Linked DNA regions of Homo sapiens: region 2 is linked to region 1. A link means that fine-mapping ties the variant in region 1 to the expression of a gene that starts in the linked region. Tissue or cell type: esophagus mucosa. Region 1 holds a variant in brackets; the other region holds the start of a gene. All regions are shown on one strand. Distances are from middle to middle.

Region 1 (10,745 bases):
AACCTCTACATCCTGGGTTCAAGTGATTCTCCCACCTCAGCCTCCGAGTAGCTGGGACTACAGGTGGACACCACCACGCCCGGCTAATTTTTGTATTTTTTTTTTTTTTTTTAGTAGAGATGAGGTTTCACTGGTGAGGCTGGTCTTGAACTCCTGACCTCAAGTGATCCACCTGACTTGGCCTGAGACAGGAGAATCGCTGGAACTTGGGAGGCAGAAGTTGCAGTGAGCCAAGATTGCCCCACTACATCATTCCAGCCTGGGTGACAGAGTGAGACCTTGTCTCAAAAAAAAAAAAAAAGAAAGTGAAAGATTTCATTCTGAACACCACTAGGCCCTGAGAGGCAAGGTTGGCTGACAGCAGACCCAGTGCAATGAGAACCATCTGACCCCCGGATTTGTTTCCTTCCTGTGGCCGCTATAACAGTACCACAAACTGAGTCACTTAAAACAACAGAAACCTATTTTCTCACAGTTCTACAGGCCAGAAGTCTGAAATCAAAGCATCTGCAGGGCCACGCTCCCCACAGAGGATCTAGGGAAGAATCCCTCCTGGCCCCTTCCAGCTTGTGAGGGCTCCAGGCGTTCCTCGGTGGCAACCACAGCCTTCCAACCTCTGCTTCCGTCTTCACAGGTCCTTCTCTACTGTGTCTCCTCTATGTGTCTCTCCTAAGGAGAGTCGTCTGTGGATTTAGGACTACCATGTTTTCCAGGATGATCTCATCTTGAGAATTCTAATATCTGCAATGACCCTTTCAAAATCCCTCCTACAGAGTTGACAAGGATTGCATGCTAGATTCCAGACAGAAATACAGTTACAATGAACCATGAATCGGGCTGCACTAGGGCCCCCTTCCTTGCTGCTAAAAGTCAGGTAGCACTTTTACACCCCATTGTTTCACCGGGCGCAGTGGCTCACGCCTGTAATCCCAGCACTTTGGGAGGCCAAGGCGGGTGGATCACCTGAGGTTGGGAGTTCGAGACCAGCCTGACCAACATGGAGAAACCCCATCTCTACCAAAGATACAAAAATTAGCCAGGCATGGTGGTGCATGCCTGTAAGCCCAGCTACTGGGGAGGCTGAGGCAGGAGAATCGCTTGATCCCAGGAGGCAGAGGTTGCAGTGAGCCGAGATCGCGCCATTGCACTCCAGCCTGGGCATCAGGAGCGAAATTCTGTCTCAAAACAAAACAAAACACAAATACATCCCATTGTTTCTACAGACAGGATCTCTGACATTAGGAGCATATGGCTTTTTTTTTTTTTTTTTTTTTTTTTTTTTTTTTTTTTTTTTTGAGATGGAGTCTTGCTCTGTCACCCAGGCTGGAGTGCATTGATGTGATCTCAGCTCACTGTAACCGCTGCCTCCCGGGTTCCAGCGATTCTCCTGCCTCAGCCTCCAGAGTAGCCGGGATTACAGGCGTGCACCACCACGCCTGGCTAATTTTTGCATTTTTAGTAAAGAAGGGGTTTTACCATGTTGGCCAGGCTGATCTTGAACTCCTGACCTCAAGTGATCCACCCGCCTCGGCCTCCAAGTGCTGGTGTTACAGGCGTGAGCCACTGCGCCCAGTCAGGATCATATGGCTTTTGCTTAAGGATCACTTCAGATGTTTTTGCAGATCTTGAATTCCAGCAACCAGTCTGAAGAAGACCCCGCATATAGGAATGGGATCAGCATGAGAATACAGCTTCTTCACCCACCCCTTGTCCCTCAACTCCCGCCCAATCCTCTGTCCCAAGACTTCACCTTGCACTCTTTGACCAATCAAAGGATCTCCACACTTGGGCCCACTCCATACCCCTTAAAAACCCCAGCCCCAAATTCCTCGGGGAGATGAATTTTTAAATTTTATTTCATTTTTATTTATAAATTTTTGTTTGTTTGTTTTCTGAGAGAGTCTCACTCTGTCACCCAGGCTGGAGTGCAGAGGTGCGATCTTGGCTCACTACCACCTTCATCTCCCAGGTTCAACTGATTCTCCCACCTCAGCCTCCCAAGTAGCTGGGACTACAGGCATGCACCACCACGCCCGGCTAATTTTTGTATTTTTAGTAGAGACAGGGTTTTGCCATGTTGGCCAGGCTGGTCTCAAACTCCTGGCCTCAAGTGATCTGCCCACCTCAGCCTCCTAAAGTGCTGGGATTACAGGTGTGAGCCACCACACCCACCCAGGAGATGGATTTTAGATTTGCTCCCATCTCCTCGATCTGTGGCCCTATGATTAAACCTCCTTCTCTGCTGCAAACTGGTATCTCAGCATGTTGACTTGCCCAGTGCCTCAAACAATGGGCCTATGACAGTTACAGTTTATCCACCTAAGATCACATTCAGGCCAGGCGCAGTGGCTCGCGCCTGTAATCCCAGCACTTTGGGAGTCCGAGGTGGGAGGCTCTCTCGAGGCCAGGACTTTGAGACCAGCCCGGGAAACATAGCAAGAATCTCTCTCTGCAAAAAATACAAAAATTAGCCAGGCATGGTGTTGCATGCCTGTGGTCCCAGCTACTTGGAAGGCTGAGGTGAGAAGATCACTTGAGCCTGGGAGGTCCAGGCTGCAGTGAGCCGAAATCATGCCATTGCTCTCTAGCCACGCTGAGTGACAGAGCAAGACCATGTCTTTAAAAAAAAAAAATAAGTTGGCCAGGCGTGGTGGCTCATGCCTGTAATCCCAGCACTTTGGGAGGCCGAGGCAGGCGGATCATCTGAGATCAGGAGTTTGAGACCAGCCTGGCCAACATGGGGAAAGCCCGTCTCTCCTAAAAACACAAAAATTAGGGGACGTGGTGGCAGGCGCCTGTAATCCCAGCTACTCAGGAGGCTGAGGCAGGAGAATCACTTGAACCTGGGAGGCGGAGGTTGCAGCGAGCCTTGATTGCGCCATTGCACTCCAGTTGGGAGACAAGAGCAAGACTTCATCTCAAAAAAAAAAAAAAAAGTGAATATAATAACATCACGTTCACAGGTTGCAGGGGCCAGAATGTGGACACATCCTTTTTGGGGGCCACCATTTGACACACTATATTCCCTCCTGGAGCTGCAGCCCTGGCCGTGAAAGGAAAGGAGAGGAAAGCAAGAAGGAAGGGGCCCCTGCACTACCCAGACCCCCAGAACATGATGCTGGTGGGGATGGAGGAGAGGCAGAAGGAAATAGGATTGAAGTCTAAATCAAGGCCCCAGCCTGGGTCTGGACATTCCTTGTTTTGAATTGAAGCCAAGCTGCCCTGTGACTAAGGCAACTCCAGGAACATCTGTTATCTGAGATGAACAGAGAACAAAGTCATAAAGCTAAGATTTTATCAAGGGGATTGTGGGGCAGGGGGGACACGTTTCCCTGTGAAAAGCACGTTATAGAGATCATGAGAGATCAGCCCTTGACTGAATTCACACAATGCTGGTTCATTTCATCACAGGGACCACCTGACCCCCAGGATTGTTCTAGAAGGTCTTTTTCTCTAACATCTCCACACCAATCCCTCTCCACCTGCCGCTCCCACCTTCCACTGGGTCCCCATCCTCCTCTGGGCTGGGGCCCTGCCTGCCTGCCATCCATTCACTCAACAAACACTTATTATTATTTTTTGAAACACAGTCTCGCTCTGATGCCCATGCTGGAGTGCAGTGGCATGATCACTGCTCACTGCAGCCTCTGCCTCCCAGGTTTAAGCAATTCTCATTTCTCAGCCTCTCGAGTAGTTGGGATTACAGGCATGCATCACCACACCTGGATAATTTTTGTATTTTTAGTAAAGACGGGGTTTTGCCATGTTGGCCAGGCTGGTCTTGAACTCCTGGGCTCAAATCTGTCCGCTCGGCCTCTCAAAGTGCTGGTAGTTACAGGCGTGAGCCACTGCGCCCAGCCCTAACACTTATTGAGCACCTGCTGTATGCCAAGGGCCAGGGAAGGGGGCAGCATACAGAGCCAGGAGAGAACAGTGTGGAGGAACTTCCCTTTTGGAGCTGACTTTCCAGTGGGAGACCTGGGCGATGACAAGATGAACAAGGAGTGAATATTCTGTGGTGTAGCCAAAAGTAGCCAGTGCAATGGAGAAAATACAGCAGCCTCAGGCCTGTAATCCCAGCACTTTGGTAGGCCGAGGCGGGCGGATCACTTGAGGCTAGGAGTTCAAAACCAGCCTGGTCAGCATGGCAAAACCCCGTCTCTACTAAAAATACAAAAATTAGCCAGGTGTCATGGAGCATGCCTGTAATCCCAGCTACTGAGTAGACTGAGGCAGGAGAATCACTTGAACTCGGAGGTGGAGGTTGCAGTGAGCTGAGAGCACACCACTGCACTCCAGCCTGAGCAACACAGCGAGACCCTGTCTCAAAAAAAAAAAAAAAAAGCAGCAATAAGAGTCTGTGGATGTTGTAAATTGGGTGTGTGTGCATCAGAGAAGGCTTCCCTGGGGAGGGGCACAAGTGAAGGGAGACCTGGAGGAGGTGAGGGAGGAGCCATGTGGATATCTGGGGGAGGATGACTCAGGCAGAGGGAACAGCCTGTGCAAAGGCCCTGAGGCAGGATGTCTTTGGTGAGTTTGGAGAACAGTAAGGAGGCCCATCTGCTTGGAGAAAGCTGGGTTTTCTGGCCTCCGTGAGGACTGGAGTTTTGCTCTGAGTGAGGCAGTTGGTAAGGAGAATAATGCCCTCCTTCCCAAGATGTCTACTTCCTCATCCTAAACTTTCAAGATCTCGTGGCCTGGGGAGGATAGGAGAAAGGGGCTGGTAACTGCTCCAGCGGGTTGATAAATATGGGTACTTCAGGGAGGCTTCCTGGAGGAGTGTCAAGCATATGACTGGCTTGAATTGCGGGAGAGGCAGGCTGAGCAGGGAGCAGGTGCCCAGGGAGAGGCAGAGGACAGGTGAAACACTTAAAAGTGTCTAAAGGAGAAAGAGTCCTTTGGACACAGCCAGGCCCTGAGAAGCAAGGTTAGTGAATTGCTACCTCATGCAACAAAAGGGACTTTGCTGATTAGGTAATTAAGGACCTTCAGACAGGGAAATGACCTTGGATCATCTAATCACACAAGTCCTTAAAGTGCAAGGGGGCGGCAGAGGGGAGTTGAAGGCTGTCATATGAGAAGGACTTGACTCGTCATTGCTGGCTTTGAAAATGGAGGGAGGGCCCACGAGCCAAGGAATGCAGGCAACTTCTAGAAACGGGGAACAGACAACCAGCAAGAAAACAGGGGCCTCAGTTCTACAATCCCGAGGAACTGAATCTTGCACCCCTAAATGAGCAAGAAATAGATCGTCCCCTAAAACCTCCAAGAAAGGACTGCAGCCTGCTGACATCTTGGTCTTAGGCAGGTGAGACCCGAACCACATCTCTGACCTCTAGAGCTGTAGGATAATTTGCGTCGTTAAAAAAACGCTAGCTTGTGACGGCAACCATGGGAAATTAACACAAGTTGGGAGCCTTCCGGGTTCTGAGCGGG[A/T]GGAGGGGGCGTGGCCTGATCAGGTGTTCGCTCGCGCCCTCTGGAGGCTGCGGAGGGAACAGGCTTCAGGGCCAGGCTGGAGACCTGAGCAAGGGTAGAGGGAACTGCACAGTCCAGGTGAGGGATGCTGGGCTGGACCAGGTGAGGGCCGGGGAGGTGGGGAAGAAATGAAGTCCGAGGTTTGAACGTGGATGGAAAGAGAAAAAAAGAGAGAACTCCAGCGGGGCGCGGTGGCTCACGCCTGTAATCCCAGCACTTTGGGAGGCCAAGGTGGGAGAATCACTTGAGGTCAGGAGTTCGAGACCAGCCTGGCCAACACAGTGAAACCCCGTCTGTACCAAAAATACAAAAAATAGCCAGGCGTGGTGCTGCACGCCTCTAGTCCCAGCTACTCGGGAGGCTGAGACAGCAGACTTGCTCGAACCCGGGAGGCGGAGGTTGCAGTGAGCCAAGACTATGCCATTGCACTCTAGCCTGGGCGACAGAGTAAGACTCCATCTAAAAAAAAAAAGAGAGAGAGGACTCCAGTCAAGGATGACCAGAAGCCTCTGAGCTGGGAACTTGGAGTCTCCCATTCCCTCCACCCCAACTCCACTAGTCCCTACCTCCCCTTGGCCTCACCTGCTAGCAGTTGTCCCAGGCGGAGGCCACATGCTTCCCTCTCCTCTGAGGCCTTGCCCCTGCCTGTGACCTCTCACTTGTCACATCTGCTGTCTCTGTTCTCAAGACAGGAAGTCAGATGGGAGTTGAAGACGGCTGGGACCTATGAGTCCCCAGGCCCCCAGAGGGATTCCGGATTTGAGAGTCGGCCTCCTCCCTCCCATCCAAGCCCAGCCCTGCCAAATCAGCTCCCAGCGCACTCCCTGGTCTGCACTTCTTTCTCTGTCTCTTTCTCTCTCTGGAATTTTCATTCTCTTTTTGGTAACCGAATTATCCCATCTCCGCCTCTCACTGGGGGCCACCCACAGAGGCGTGGGAGAGGAGGGGCCCAGGTCGCAGCGCGAGATATTAAACCATCAATCACCCGCCAACGCCGACTCCCCCGCACCAGGACCCTCCGTTGGCTCCACCTGGAAGCAGACCAGCTCCAGTGCAGGCCTGGAGGCCTGGGGACCCCATCAAAATGGGAGGCCTTGGAAGAATCTCACAGGCCCTGCATCCACCTGGGCAGGTGCCTGGGTGCAGATCGGCCTGGCTCAATGCACAGAAAGGTGTCCTGGGTTCAAATCTACAAGCTACTTCTTATCCACACATGGGAGCCACTGCATTGCTCTGTGTCTTGGTTTCTCCACCTGTAAAATGGTGATAACAGCCGGGCACGGTGGCTCACGCCTGTAATCCCAGCACTTTGGGAGGCTGAGGCGGGCAGATCACCTGAGGTCAGGACTTCGAGACCAGCCTGGCCAACATGGCAAAACTCCATCTCTACTAAAAATATAAAAATTAGCCAGGTGTGGTGGCGTGCCCCTGTAATGCCAGCTACTTGGAAGGCTGAAGCAGGAGAATCACCTGAACCCAGGAGTCAGAAGTTGCAGTGAACCGAGATTGTACTACCACACTCCAGCCTGGGGGACAGAGCGAGACTCTGTATTAAAAAAAAAAAAATGGTGGTAACATTTTCTACATCACTGGGGTTCACTGTCAGGATTAAACCAGTTAAGGCAGATGGCAATATCTGGCTGATAGTAACTCCTGTCTAGGATTTGCTGCTAGAATGATTTTCCTTTAAGATTGGGGGGGTCATTCACTTGTGAAGGAAATCCAAGATTCTTGGCTTTTGGGGGGACTTAATGGGGTTCATACTTGTGTCACCTCACAGCTGCTGCCTTGTATAGGTTGGAATTGGATTTTTTTTTTTTTTTTTTGAGATGGAGTCTTGCTCTGTCGCCCAGGCTAGAGTGCAGTGCACGATCTCGGCTCACTGCAACCTCCGCCTCCCAGGTTCAAGGAATTCTCCTGCCTCAGCCTCCTGAGTAGCTGGGACTACAGGCACATGCCACCACACCCAGCTAATTTTTTTTTATTTTTAGTAGAGACGGGGTTTCACCATCTTGGCCAGGCTGGTCTCGAACTCCTGACCTTGTGATCCAGCTGCCTCGGCCTCCCAAAGTGCTAGGATTACAGGCATGAGCCACTGCGCCTGGCCGGAATTGGATTTTTTTGTTTTTTGTTTTTGAGACAAAGTCTTGCTCTGTCACCCAGGCTGAAGTGCCGTGTGGTATGATCATGGCTCATTGCAGCCTCAACCTTCTGGACTTAAGTGATCCTCCCACCTCAGCCTCTTGAGTAGTTAGGATCACAGGCATGAGCCGCCACACCCAGGTCTAGGGGAAAAAAAATTAAAGGCTCTTTCAGAACCTTAACTAGGGCCAAGCAACCCATATTTCAAGGCGCTCAATTCACAAAACAAGGTCTCAGTGCTTTGCACAGGCTGTTCCCCCTGCCTAAAATGCTGTTCCCTCAGCCAGCCACGTGACTCCTCCTTGCCTGCTTCTGGGTTTGCTGCAATGTCACCTCCTCAGTGAGGTCACTTTGTAAAAATTGCACCCAGGGCCCCTGCCCGCCCCCACCCCTCCCAGCTGTATGTCCCTCCATAGCATGCACCCCATTTTGCATACCGTATGCAGTGCTTGTGGGGTTTGCCTGTTCATCCCACTGGAGTGTTAACCCCAGAGCAAGGTTCATTCATTCACTGCCCAGCATGGCACCTGGCATGAAATAAACACCCAGTAAATACTTGTTGAGTGAAAGCATGAACAAATTCCATTCAGCTGCTCCCAGAGGACCCCACAGGCTGCAGCCAGCTCAAAGCTGCTGTAGCTGGGCCTGTCAGCAATCTTGGGTTTCCTGGAGGGGGGTGGAGGGGGTATCACTGGATGTGTTCAGAGATGCAGCTGGTTCACTGTCAACTTTGTGTGGACTTTTCTTTTTTTTTTGAGGCTGGATCTCACTCTGTCACACAGGCTGGTGTGCAGTGGCGTGATCACAGCTCACTGCAGCCTCCACTCCAGCTATCCTCCCACCTCAGCCCCCTGAGTAGCTGGGACCACAGTTGTGCGCCACCATGCCTGGGTAATTTTTGTATTTTTCATAGAGACAGGGATTCACCATGTTGCCCAAGCTGGTCTTGAACTCCTGAGCTCAAGCAATCTGCCTGCCTAGGCCTCTCAAAGCAGTGGGATTACAGGCGTGAGCCACAACGCCCGGCCAGGATGTTTATTTTGTCATTATTTATTTATTGTAGAGATGGTGGTCTCCCTATGCTGCTTAGGCTGGTCTTCAGGTCCTGGGCGATCCTTCCGTCTTGGCCTCCCAAAGTGCTGGGATTACAGGCATGAGCCATGGTGCCCGGCCTTGTGTAGATCTTTAAAAGGTACCCCTTCCTTGCTGGGTGCCGTGGCTCATGCCTGTAATCCCAACACTTTGGGAGGCTGAGGTGGGCAGCTCACCTGAGGTCAGGAGTTCGAGACCAGCCTGGCCAACATGGTGAAACCTCGTCTCTATTAAAAATACAAAAATTAGCTGGGCGTGGTGGCGGGTGCCTGTAATCTCAGCTACTGGGGAGGCTGAGGCAGGAGAATTTCTGGAACCTGGGAGGCAGAGGTTTCAGTGAGCTGAGATCGTGCCATTGCACTCCAGCCCAGGCAATAACAGTGAGACTCCATCTCAAAAAATAAAATAAATAAAATAAAATAAAATAAAATAAAAGGTACCTCTTCCTCTGGGCAGATGCAATGTGTGGTGAGGGGAACAGATGATGTTAGCTTCTGCTCTAGCCTCTGTCTGGCATGCTTGTGCAGTGCGCAACTTGCACAACTGTTCTTGGCAGTACTGCTACTGTCCCCCATCTCTTGAGTAGCTCAGAAGGTGGGGGGCGCTGTGAAGACCAAGTAACCAGAGGCTGGACCTCTACACCCAGGTGTTTAGAGGGCCAAACCCCAACCTCTGTGCCCAGCTCATTGCTGGTGAAAAATCTGCCAAGGAACTGGACTGTTCTGGTGACACCCCAAAGACTCCCCTCCTGGTATCCCCAGCAGTGTCTCCCTTGCTCCTCCGGACTAGTGGTGCGGTGCCCTCGCCTTCCCCAGCCCCCTCTGCACGTTTCCACCCAGCCAGGAGTCCCACACTTGCCTGCTTCTCCCAACTCTCTCTCTCTCTCTCTCTCTCTCTCTCTCTCTCTCTCTCTCTCTCTCTCTCTCTCCAGCACAGTGGCTATTTTTATTTTTCCTTCTTATTAAATTTCCAACTTCTGCAAACACCATGGCCTCTGCCTCGCCGCGCCCCCCCACCTTCCCTTAGGGCGGATTTGATTCACTTGCGTTTTATTAACAGATTAAAAAAAAAAAAAACCCGCAGCTGCCACCACAATGTGACTTTCTCCGCTTTCCTGGAGGTTTAGGGAACTGGGCTACAGGATCCCCTCCGGGTTTAAATTTGCCCTCCTCCCCACTCCCAGGGACCTTCCCATCACAGCCTGAGCGGCGAGGTCGGGAAGGGGCTGGGGAGTGAGGTTGGATCTCGTTCTGGGTTTAGGGGGGACTGGGATGGGTGTCAGGCCTGATGCGGTTCCCCCAGCCAGGGACTCGTCCCAAGGCGGAACTGGAAATTAAAAAAAAAAAAAAAAAAAAAGCAATCCGTTGGGAAGCCCCGCCCCCGCCTCGCCCCCCACCCCAGACCCTGGGTGCTAAACGCTTCGGGTGGGAGGGGCAGCCTCGGGGGTGGGGGCTTAGAGTTGGCGCCTCCCACACAGAGCTGGGGTCGCCCCTACCCTCTCTCTCTTAGGATGGCTGGCAGGGGGCCTTGGGAAGGTTTGCCACCTACCCAAGCCCGGCTCGCTCAGTTTTCTTTCCTCCTTAGGACATTCTGATTCCGGTGCTGACTCCCAGACCTGAGAGCAAATTGCTTCTTCATGCCCCGGGGTGTTTTCCTCCCCTCAAGTCTTTTTTTTTTTGTCAGTCGCCATGGCAACCAAGAACCCAGCTGCACTATACTTCCCTGGGATACAGGATGGGGGTAGGGGGTGATGGCGAAACTAACTGGGTCGTTTAGGCCAGGACCTTCCTACCCTCCTCTTTGCCCCCTCTCTTAGTCCTCCACCCCTTCCCCACACCACCTGGTCCAGCCTTGATTGACAAGAGGGCAGGTTGCGCCTGTCGGGGTTACCCATCTTGGTGGTTGGGCCACAGCTTCCTTCTGGGTCACTCTGTTCTGGGAAGGTCCTTCATTTGGCCCGAGGACTAAGGCTCCAGCTGTCAGTGAAATCCCTTTCCCCTTCCTTTCCTCCACTCTTTAGTCCCTCAGTCAGGGTG
Region 2 (9,218 bases), 200 kb before region 1:
ATATGTGGTTCCCCTCACCTACGGTCTATTAAGATCTTCCAATTCTTCCATCACCATGTCCCTCTTCCCGTCCATCCTCACTGTCACCTTCTTGCCTCTGTTCAGTGCTGCAGCTCCTGCCTAGCTTCCCTCATCCCCGTAGCCCATTCACTCCTTATCCCCTAAGACACTGGAGCTTTCCCAAGCCTGGCTTGGATCACATAACAACCCTGCTAAAAAACTTTCTAAGGCTTCCCCTGCCTACAACGAAGTCCTGGTTCAAGCTAATTTTTCAGCTTTATCTCCTTCTCCTACCCAACACATTCCCTCTGGCCCACTCACACCAATTTCTTAAAGTTGCACAAACTTCATGGCACAATCATTCTCACCCCAGGACTATAGCACTCAACTATCCTCCAACATGGGGCAAAGAGGGAGAAGGAAGCACATAACAGCACCCACCACGAATGCTAAGAGGAGAACCATTTCCTTGCTGAAGGTCAAATGTCCATCTCCAGGTTCAAAAGCCAATACTTGGCACCCCCAACTCCATGCCCTACACCTGGACTCCAGGCATTGCGAAGAATCACACACAATTTCCCCTCTGTAACCTCCCAGCACTCCCTCATCCCTATGACAGAATTAAAGACATTGAATTAGACTTCAAAAGAGTCCATACTGTGAGTCAGCCCCCAAGGATGGCAGAGATTTGACTTCAGCGGTGGCCATGGACCCTCCATAGTGGAGGTAGAAACGGAGAGGGATTGTCAGCCCAAGCCCTTCCCCCACCTCTCCAGCCCCCTACTGCAATCCCCTGGCATATGGAGGATTTCCCAGGCATTCAATATATAACGTCCAATTTCTACATGGTGTAAACCCGGCTCTGGTGCAGCAGAGTAGGGAGGAGGCAGGAGGGAGATCCTCTCAGGGGAGCCCATCTCTTCCTCCTGATACCTGGAGAGCAGTGTCGTTCAGCCCTAGAGATGCACAAAGCCACACCCCCACCCCACGTCACCATCTCAGGAGCGCGGAGCTAGGGAAGCCCACGCAAGCAGGGAGACTGAGACCGATTTCAGGGAGGGCTGGAAGGAAATGGGGGGTTAACTGCTCACATACCTGATCAAACAGGACTTTCCAGTGCTGGCAGAGAGGGAGGCCATGCAGGAGAGGAAGAAGAGGAGAGAAAGAAAGACACACTTATCACCAAGGTCTCTGTAGTCCTCGGATGTTTCTGACATAGCCTCCCAGCGGCTGCCCAGGAGTCATGACCAGGCTCAGGGACTGGCCACAGGAGAGCAGGGGAAGTCTGGGAGGAGCTCCCCAATGAGTCCACACTGAGCAGAGGGAGGAAACTCACAGTAAGGGATGGGGTGGGGGCGGGGGCGGCAAGGTGGGTGTTGCTGGTTCTGGAACTGGCAGAACAAGTGATTCTCAACAATTACTAAATAAAGGCGTCCAAATATGTCCAAGCGCCTCTAATAATTTCTGCTGCCTAAAGCTTATGTCCACAGCTACTCCCAGGCCTGGGAGAGCATGGCCAGGTGCAATTCCATCAGACCCCGGCGCAATGAGTCTCACCTGCTGGGAGCTAGAGCCCCCCCCTCCCCCCCCAGGAGAACTCACCTCTGCATAAACACTAACATTTTGCCTGCAGTTTTTTGTTTGTTTGTTCGTTTTTTGTTTTTTTGCGGGGAAGGGGGGGTGGTGAATGCCGAATGCGGTGAAGCCCACCCATTCTCTTCCAAGGCTGAGTCTAAGTGGTGACTACATCAGATTCTGCCAGGGGTTTAGGGCCAGAAGGAAGTGATAGATTTAACCGCAGACGCCAAAGAGAGAAGATCGTAAACTACCCCCCAACCCCATTCAGACTTTCCCGCTTTCGTTGTGTGGGTTGGGGGCCTGGTTTCACTTCCATCTCCCCACCCTGAGGGAGGAGTGGGCAGGGCAGGGTGTCTGCCCGGTTTTTCACCCCTATGTGTAGGTTAGCCCCGGGAGGTTAACCCAAGAAACTCCAGTTCCCAGGGCTTCGCAGGGCCGGCCCGCAGGACCGGAGGGATGGAGACCCGAGCAGCAGACGGCGGGGAAGCCCTCGGGGCAGCCCCTCCCTCTCCTCGCCCAGGGGACCGTCCCCTGGCACCGCCACGGTCTTGGACTCCCGGGCCTCCTTCTAGGAGCAAAGCCGCTCCCAGCACTCTTTGCCTCCCTGCTCCGGCCGGGGTCAGAGGCGGGGGCCGGCTTGAATTTCAATCAGTGTCGCGGCAAGGCAGGTGCCGGGCGGGAGCTAATCCGGGAGCGGAGGAAGGGGTCGCCAGGCCGGCTTGCATGGCCAGGGACGGGGACTCTGCGGCGTCCGCTCCTTCCCCAGCTCCGGGAGCTCGCAGGTCGCGGGCGTGAGGGGAGGGGGAGTCACCGCCGTGACGCGGCCGCCTCTGCGGGAAAACGCCGTGTCCCGGGCACTGCACCAGCGGCGGGGAGGGGGCTCCGGCGGTGACAGGTCCGCGGCGCAGTGGCGGTGCTGTGTCCCGCAGGGAAGCCGCGGGAACCAGAGCGGGGGAAGCGGTGCGCGCGCGTTTCGGGGAGACCGGTCCCTCCGCCCCCTCCTGCCCGCGGGGACCCGGCCAATCCGGGGCGCTCCCGCGTCACCCTGAAACCTCCAAGTTGCCCGGCGTGGGGCGAGACAGGGGCGGCTTTTCCCCCCGGCGCCCCCTAGAAAGTTTGCCGGGCGGGGAGGGGGCACTCACGTCCTCCGGCGCCGCGGGCAGCCGCTCCTCGGCCTCGGGTTCCAGCTCCTCGATGCGCTCCGCCTCGGCGCAGGCGGCCACCGCGGGGCCCGGGCTGGGGTGCTCGCCCATGGCCGAGACGGGGTCCGGGGGCGGCGGCGGCTGCGGGGCTCGTCCCGGGGCGCCGGGCTAACTTTGCGCCGCGGCGGCCGCGCCGCTCCAGGGGCTCAGTGCGCGCCGCGCCGCCTCCGCGCCCGCTCCGCAGCCCGCGCCCGCCCCCATGGCCCCGGTCCCCGCGCCGCCGCCGCCTCCTCGCGACCCCGGGACGCCCGGCCCCTCCGCCGCCAAACTTCACTGCGCTAGCTGCCCCGCCGGCCTCCGCCTCCGCCCCGGCCCTCGCGCCCGGCTCCGAGGCGAGGGCGCCCTTGGGCCGGCCCCGGCCCCGCCGCTCCCCGCGCTCCCTTCCCGCTTCTCGCGGCCCCCGCTCTGCGCCCGAGTCTCCTCCTCCCCGCGGAGTCCTCGGGGGCGGCGCGCGGGCGGGGGCGGGGCTGCTCGCGGGGAACGCCGGCCCCCGCCCCGCACCCCACCCCGGGCGCCGCCACCCGGGCCCAGTCGGTCAGAGCGGCGCGGCCCGGGAGCGGGAGGGCTGCGGCGGGGCTGGCGAGGAAGTGGTGGCGCTGCCCGGGGCGGGGATGGGGACTGCGCCGTCCCCGGCCCGGTCACCACCGGCCTGCACTCCGGGCCCGGGCTTGGCTCTTCCATCGGCTTAACCATCACTTGGAGGTGGCAGATATGTGATGGAGACACTATGTTGGCGACGTCAGGGTTAACTAGGAGTGAATTGGGGGCGCGATGTTGTAAGGACGGGATTCCTGCCTCCCGCCCCATTATCCTTACGCCCTATTCACTGCGGTCTCAGATTCTGGGAGGTCTCGGGAGGCCCAGAAATGGGAGAAGTCAGATTGCGGGGTCGTGGGCCCCAAAGCCTAAATCTTGCCCTTCCTACACCCAGAGCTAAGTGACCATGCCCAGGCTTCATTTGACCACATGGACAAAGGTAAGCCCAGGGAAATGCCCCATCTGGGGAGAGGGACGGTAAAGAAACTAAAGCAATCAGAAAGGAAGTTAGCCAAAACGGAGTAGGGGATCTTTTAAAGAAAACAATCGATGCTGTTTCCCTGCAGGAAAGCGCCCCCAAGAGAGACCATCTCCCGAAGCAGAGGCTCTGGCTGTAAATGGTGCTAGTGGCCGGCCTGGCAGGGGCCAGCTCTCCCCAGAGGCTCAGGAGCTTCTCCAGGAGGCATCTCGCAGTCAGTCCCCAGCCCACACCAAGGCTGTGCCCTTCCACTCCTCTTGCTTTCCTCTTCCCACCACCCACTCACTCACTAGTCTTTGCCCTCTTCCTTCCTCTGGGAAACGGAACAGGCTCCTTTCCATTAGTGAGAGCTGCAACTAATGCAGTCATCTTCAGAAAGCAAAGACATAACCCCGTGCCCAGGATCCGAACTGCGACCATCACCCAGCAATGACTGCTCCCCTTAAACACCGAGAAGGGAATTCACTTGATTCTAATTAGGTGAGTTTGCTACAGACACCAATTTTCATCTCTGTTTCAGAAAGTGTGATCATTTCAACTATTTTTGTTTCTCACCACCCTCCTCCCCATCCCTACTCTACTAACAAGTCAAGATCCTGCCAAGATTTCCTTGTAAATAAAACTGTCTGCATGGGGTGTGATTTTGAAAACAGCCTTCAGGGGACAGAAGAGAGGCTGATTCCTTTGTGAAGAGGAGCCCAGAAGGACAAATGACCGCTGGGGCCCTGGGGTCTGTGTCGCTGCCTCCCGCATCCCAGGCTGTCATTTGCATGACCGGTATGGGTGTTGGCTCTGTTATACTTAGATCTCTGGGACTAGAGAAGTGGGCCAGGAAGTCTGGTTCCAGGGGAACTGGAAGGAGAAGGGCACAGAAAAGGGTTGGCCACTCTGCTGGGATGCCCAGCCACCCTGGACAGTGTTCTGATACCAGCTACCCAGGGAGCTGCCTCTTCATCAGCCCAGGGACAGCTCTTATCAACATATCCAACTCTGTCATCCCTTCGTGGGGAAGGGAGCTTAGCAGGCTCAGTTCTGTTCCTGAACATGTATTAAGCTCCTACTAAGTACCAATGACAGAGCTTTGAGAATACAGAGGTGGATAAGAACCAGACCCTGCCCTCCAGAAATGGATAATTGGGGGTGACAGTCACATTCAACACAAGGGTAAGTCCTGGATTCAAGGGAAGCCCAGAAGGTGTAGAACTCCAAAGGAGGGGGTCGCTGTGGGTCCAGGAAGGCTTCCCAAAGGATAAGCCTCCAGAACTAGGCAACATGGAAAAGGTGAAGGAGGTGTTCCAGGTAGAGGGAACAGCACGACCAGGCTTGTGGAGCAGCATCATATGGGAGGCAAACGACAAGCAGTTTGGCATGGCTGGAAACTGGAGCACGATGACCAATCTAAAGAGCCCAGCCTGGACGGGAAGGTTGTGAGGGGCTGTGAGTTTCATGGGAAAAGAGCTTGGACTTTACCTAAGGGCAATAGGGAGCCATTGAAGGATTGTGAGCAGTAGAGTAATATTTAAAAGATCCCTGGCCAGGCGCGGTGGCTCACGGCTGTAATCCCAGCACTTTGGGAGACCAAGGCGGGCGGATCACGAGGTCAGGAGATCGAGACCGTCCTGGCTAACACGTTGAAACCCTGTCTCTACTAAAAAAATACAAAAAATTAGCCGGGCGTGGTGGTGGGCGCCTGTAATCCCAGCTACTCGGGAGGCTAAGGCAGGAGAATCACTTGACCACAGGAAGCGGAGCTTGCAGTGAGCCGAGATCTGCCACTGCACTCCAGCCTGGGCGACAGAGTGAGACTCCGTCTCAAAACAAACAAAAAAGATCCCTTTGGCTGTAGTGTAGAGTCTAGACAGGAGGGAGGTTGGCCTGAGCAGAGGGCCATGAGAGGTGCTGTCCAAGGAAGAGGTCACAAGGGCGGCAGCAGTTAGAATAAAAGGGAGAGGGAAGATGGGAAACATCCAGAAGGCTATCTTGTTCCTCCTTCTGTCCCTAGGAACATTTACCCCGCCTTGGCAGGCTATGTTTCCAAAAGTCTCCTAAGAAGGAATTCCTGATCTCTCACCAGGATTCTTGCTTCACGGGGCAGCTTCTCTCACCTTGGCCCTTGCTGGGAGGTGATGGTGTCTGGACTTGGAGACTGTTAGGACAAGTTGTTACATCCATCATCCTCCATGAGCCTGAGGCCACCCTTTACCTGTTGTCCTCAATGTCACCTACGCCCAGCTGGTCAGACCACTCTGCCCCTCAGCTCCAGGCGAATCTGCAACCCACTCCCGAGCAGGCAGTAGGACATGGGGCCTGGGGTCCAGGCCTAGAAAGCTCCAGGGGATAGGAGTGGCTAGGCACCCTGACACCTTTTGTTCTACTCTCACCTGAGACAGCCTAAGGACTGGCATATTCTGTGGCATTTTGGGGGCAGAGGAGGGAGTAGGCATGGTGTCACTTTCACTGACCAGCTGCAGCAGGCAGGCACTCGTCGATGCCTGGAGGTGTGCCATGCAGAGGCCCCTCCCTGGGAGAACCTTTGGCGCTAATGAGAAGTGACACGGAACTGGGCCTATTGGCACTTCTTCCTTGCTCTTCATTTTGCAAGTGCGCTACACCATGGCCTCTTTTAAGGTTCCTAACAAGACACTTGAAGTCAACGCAGAGCAGGATGAAGGGCTGGGGAAGGGTGGATCAAACTCGGTTTAGAAGGGCAGGAGCATGATGTTGAGATGAGCCTTGAAAGGGGCAAGCTTGTGGTAGAGAACGTGGAAGGGTTTCTAGGTGGAGGGAACTGCTGCGGCAAAGACACAGAGATAGGAAAGCTGTTGACTGTGTTGGGAACCATGAAGTGGCTGAGCACAAAGTGAGGATGGCCGGGCAGGCGAGGAGCACTGTGTCGCCAGAGTCCCCGAGTGCCAGTCTGAGGAGGTTGGACCTCGCCCAGTGGGAGATAGAGAAGCGGTGATGGCTTCTAACTGGAGCAGCATTTTAGGAAGATTAAGTTGGCGACAGCTCAGCAGTGCCATTCAGCTCACACGTGCTGAGTGTCCATTATGTGCCAGACCCTGGCCGAGGTACTGATAGTACAAAGGGGATGAGACCCGGGCCCTGGCCTCCTGGGGGAAAATGAGGTCATCCTCTAATGACAGTCCAGTGGGATAAGGGGGAGGAGAGAGAGAAGAGCCTTTCCAGGGCTGAGTCTCTCAAATGTGCCCTCCAAGAGAGGAAGGAGTTTTTTTAAGGACCCGATGTTCTGGTCCTGGGAACTGGGACAGTTGGCTGCCATGGAAAAGCCAGGAGTAGCTGCTGGAAGCGGGGAGAGGAAGGCAAAGGGGGCTGAGCAGTTTGTTTGTGGACACCTTGAGCTAATGAGAAGCCAGGGAAGAAACATGAAGGGCTGTAATTATTGCTCAAAGCAATGGCAATGCCCAGAAGGGGGGCAAACAGGGATGACTTTTTCTCCAGAACCTCTTTCACTTGGGGTTCATTCTGACATCTCCCTCTGCCAGACCCACACCCTCCGAGCCCCTTCTCTCTCTGCAGCCAGCTTAAACCTAAACTGACCTTCGTGGCACCCTGTCCCCACCTGTAGCTCTAATCTTCTGAGAAACCAGCCCTGAGCTACCACTGTTTGCCTTCCTGAGATGAAGACGTAAGTTATTTTTGACTGAGATCCAAGTCCCGGCCCTGAATTCTTTTGTCTTCCGGGAATCCCCCAGCCGTGTTTGAAGTCTGCAAGTCCAAACAGCAGACATGGCTCAGGATGGCAGAATCCGACCACCCTCCACCTCCATCTCCAGCATTCTTCCATCATCGCCCGCTGTCTGCCAGATCAAACGGAGCAAGACTGCTACATGGATTTCTTTCCCTTTCGTCTCTTCCTTTCACTCCAGGGCTCCCAGTTTTCTGAGTAACTTAAATCATTACTGAGAGATGTGTAGGTTCACAGACCAAACCCTTTCAAAGCAAGGCGTGGGCACCCAGAAGTTGAGCTCAGAAAAGCACAGAAAAAAACTTTCCCAGTCCCAAGATTTAGCCAGTCACACATTCAGGGAAACAATCAGCTACTTTGCCAGGTCTTACCTTCCTTTCCTGCCACCTCCTTGGGGCCTGGCTGGTCCCCAGGGTCCCATTTCTGAATTCTCATTGGGCCTCAAGACTTCCATATGACCTTCACTGTGCTATAGGCAGGTCCTGTGTCTTCAGTAAACCACCTGTTCTATCTTACCCATCAGCCAGTCACAGTGGCTCACACCTATAATCCCAGCACTTTGGGAGGCCAAGGTGGGAGGATCACTTGAGTCCAGGAGTTCAAAACCAGCCTGGGCAACATAGCAAGACCCTGCCTCTACAAAAAAATTTAAAACCGGCCGGGCGCGGTGGCTCACGCCTGTAATCCCAGCACTTTGGGAGGCCAAGGCGGGCAGATCACGAGGTCAGGAGATCGAGGCCATCCTGGCTAACACGGTGAAACCCTGTCTCTATTAAAAATATAAAACATTTGCCGGGCCTGGTGGCGGGCACTTGTAGTCCCAGCTACTCGGGAGGCTGAGGCGAGAGAATGGCGTGAACCAGTGGGGCAGAGCCTGCAGTGAGCCGAGATCACGCCACTGCACTCCAGCCTGGGCGACAGAGCGAGACTCCGTCTCACAAAAAAAAAAAAAAAAAAAAAAATTAAAACCTAGCCAGGTGTGGTGGCATGGGACCTGTAGTCCTAGCTACTTGGGAGGCTGAGGTGGGAGGATCCCTTAAAATAAAGGAGAGAATCTTGCCCATCTCTCTGACGAATGCTCTCTCCTCCACAAAGCCTTTCCTCAACTCTCCAACCCAAATGAACCACTCCTTCCTCTGAATCCCTTTTTCCTTTTGACTTTGAATTATATCTTCTAAGTTTTATCTTCCTGATACTAGAACGTACATTCCTTGAAGGGGAGGATTATGGCTTATTCAATTCTGCATCCTTCGCAATGCACAACATTGCACACTGTAGAAACTGAACAAATGTCTGTTTAATGAAAAAAAGGGGATGCCTCTCTTGATATGACACAAAGTCTAATTATATAGTTATTACTCTCAACCTGCAACAAGAGACAACTTTTATGTTATGGAGAAAAAAATTCTTCTGCATAATAATAATGCGCCTGTATGCCTGCTGCCTTTATTTCAAAATACTTCCGCATTTGCCATTGCATTTCATCCTCAAAAAGCAAGCCTTTCTGAGGTGAGCAGAACAGATACAATTGCCTCCATTTTATAAATGGGGACACTAAAATCCCTGGGCCCCGGGGAGGTTTGATTCTCCATGCCTGTCACCAAAGTTCTTATTTAAAGAGTGAAATACAAAAGCCCCTGATGGTAGTGAGTGCCCTTGGCCCCGACCGCTGACCACTGTCTGCAGAGACTGCTTTCCCAGGGCAACTGGACCA

Which allele goes with the higher level. Positions count from the first base shown, and alleles are read on the strand shown. Sizes are in standard deviations (SD) of each study's normalised expression.
For the expression in esophagus mucosa of the gene that starts at base 3,189 in region 2, allele A in region 1 goes with a lower level than allele T (moderate effect, 0.69 SD a copy in GTEx).

Evidence for each region. PIP is the estimated chance that this variant, and not a neighbour inherited with it, causes the effect. A credible set is the group of variants that fine-mapping cannot tell apart.
Region 2: RHBDL3 starts here. The variant in region 1 is the best candidate, but not a certain one, in a credible set for the expression of RHBDL3 in esophagus mucosa (GTEx, PIP 0.73).

Annotation. Positions count from the first base shown.
Region 1 is chr17:32,061,798-32,072,542 of GRCh38, reverse strand. No RefSeq gene overlaps it. Among named protein-coding and RNA genes, the nearest start is that of VILMIR, 16 kb to the left of the region's middle. The variant A/T (reference allele first, on the strand shown) is at 5,437.
Region 2 is chr17:32,259,803-32,269,020 of GRCh38, reverse strand. RHBDL3 (rhomboid like 3) reads right to left here and starts at 3,189. Exons shown (of 9, transcript NM_138328.3): 1 at 2,721-3,189; 2 at 1,096-1,119. The coding sequence starts at 2,831. It overlaps LOC105371731 (a long non-coding RNA gene), which reads left to right and starts at 3,570. Exons shown (of 3, transcript XR_934665.2): 1 at 3,570-3,756; 2 at 4,125-4,275.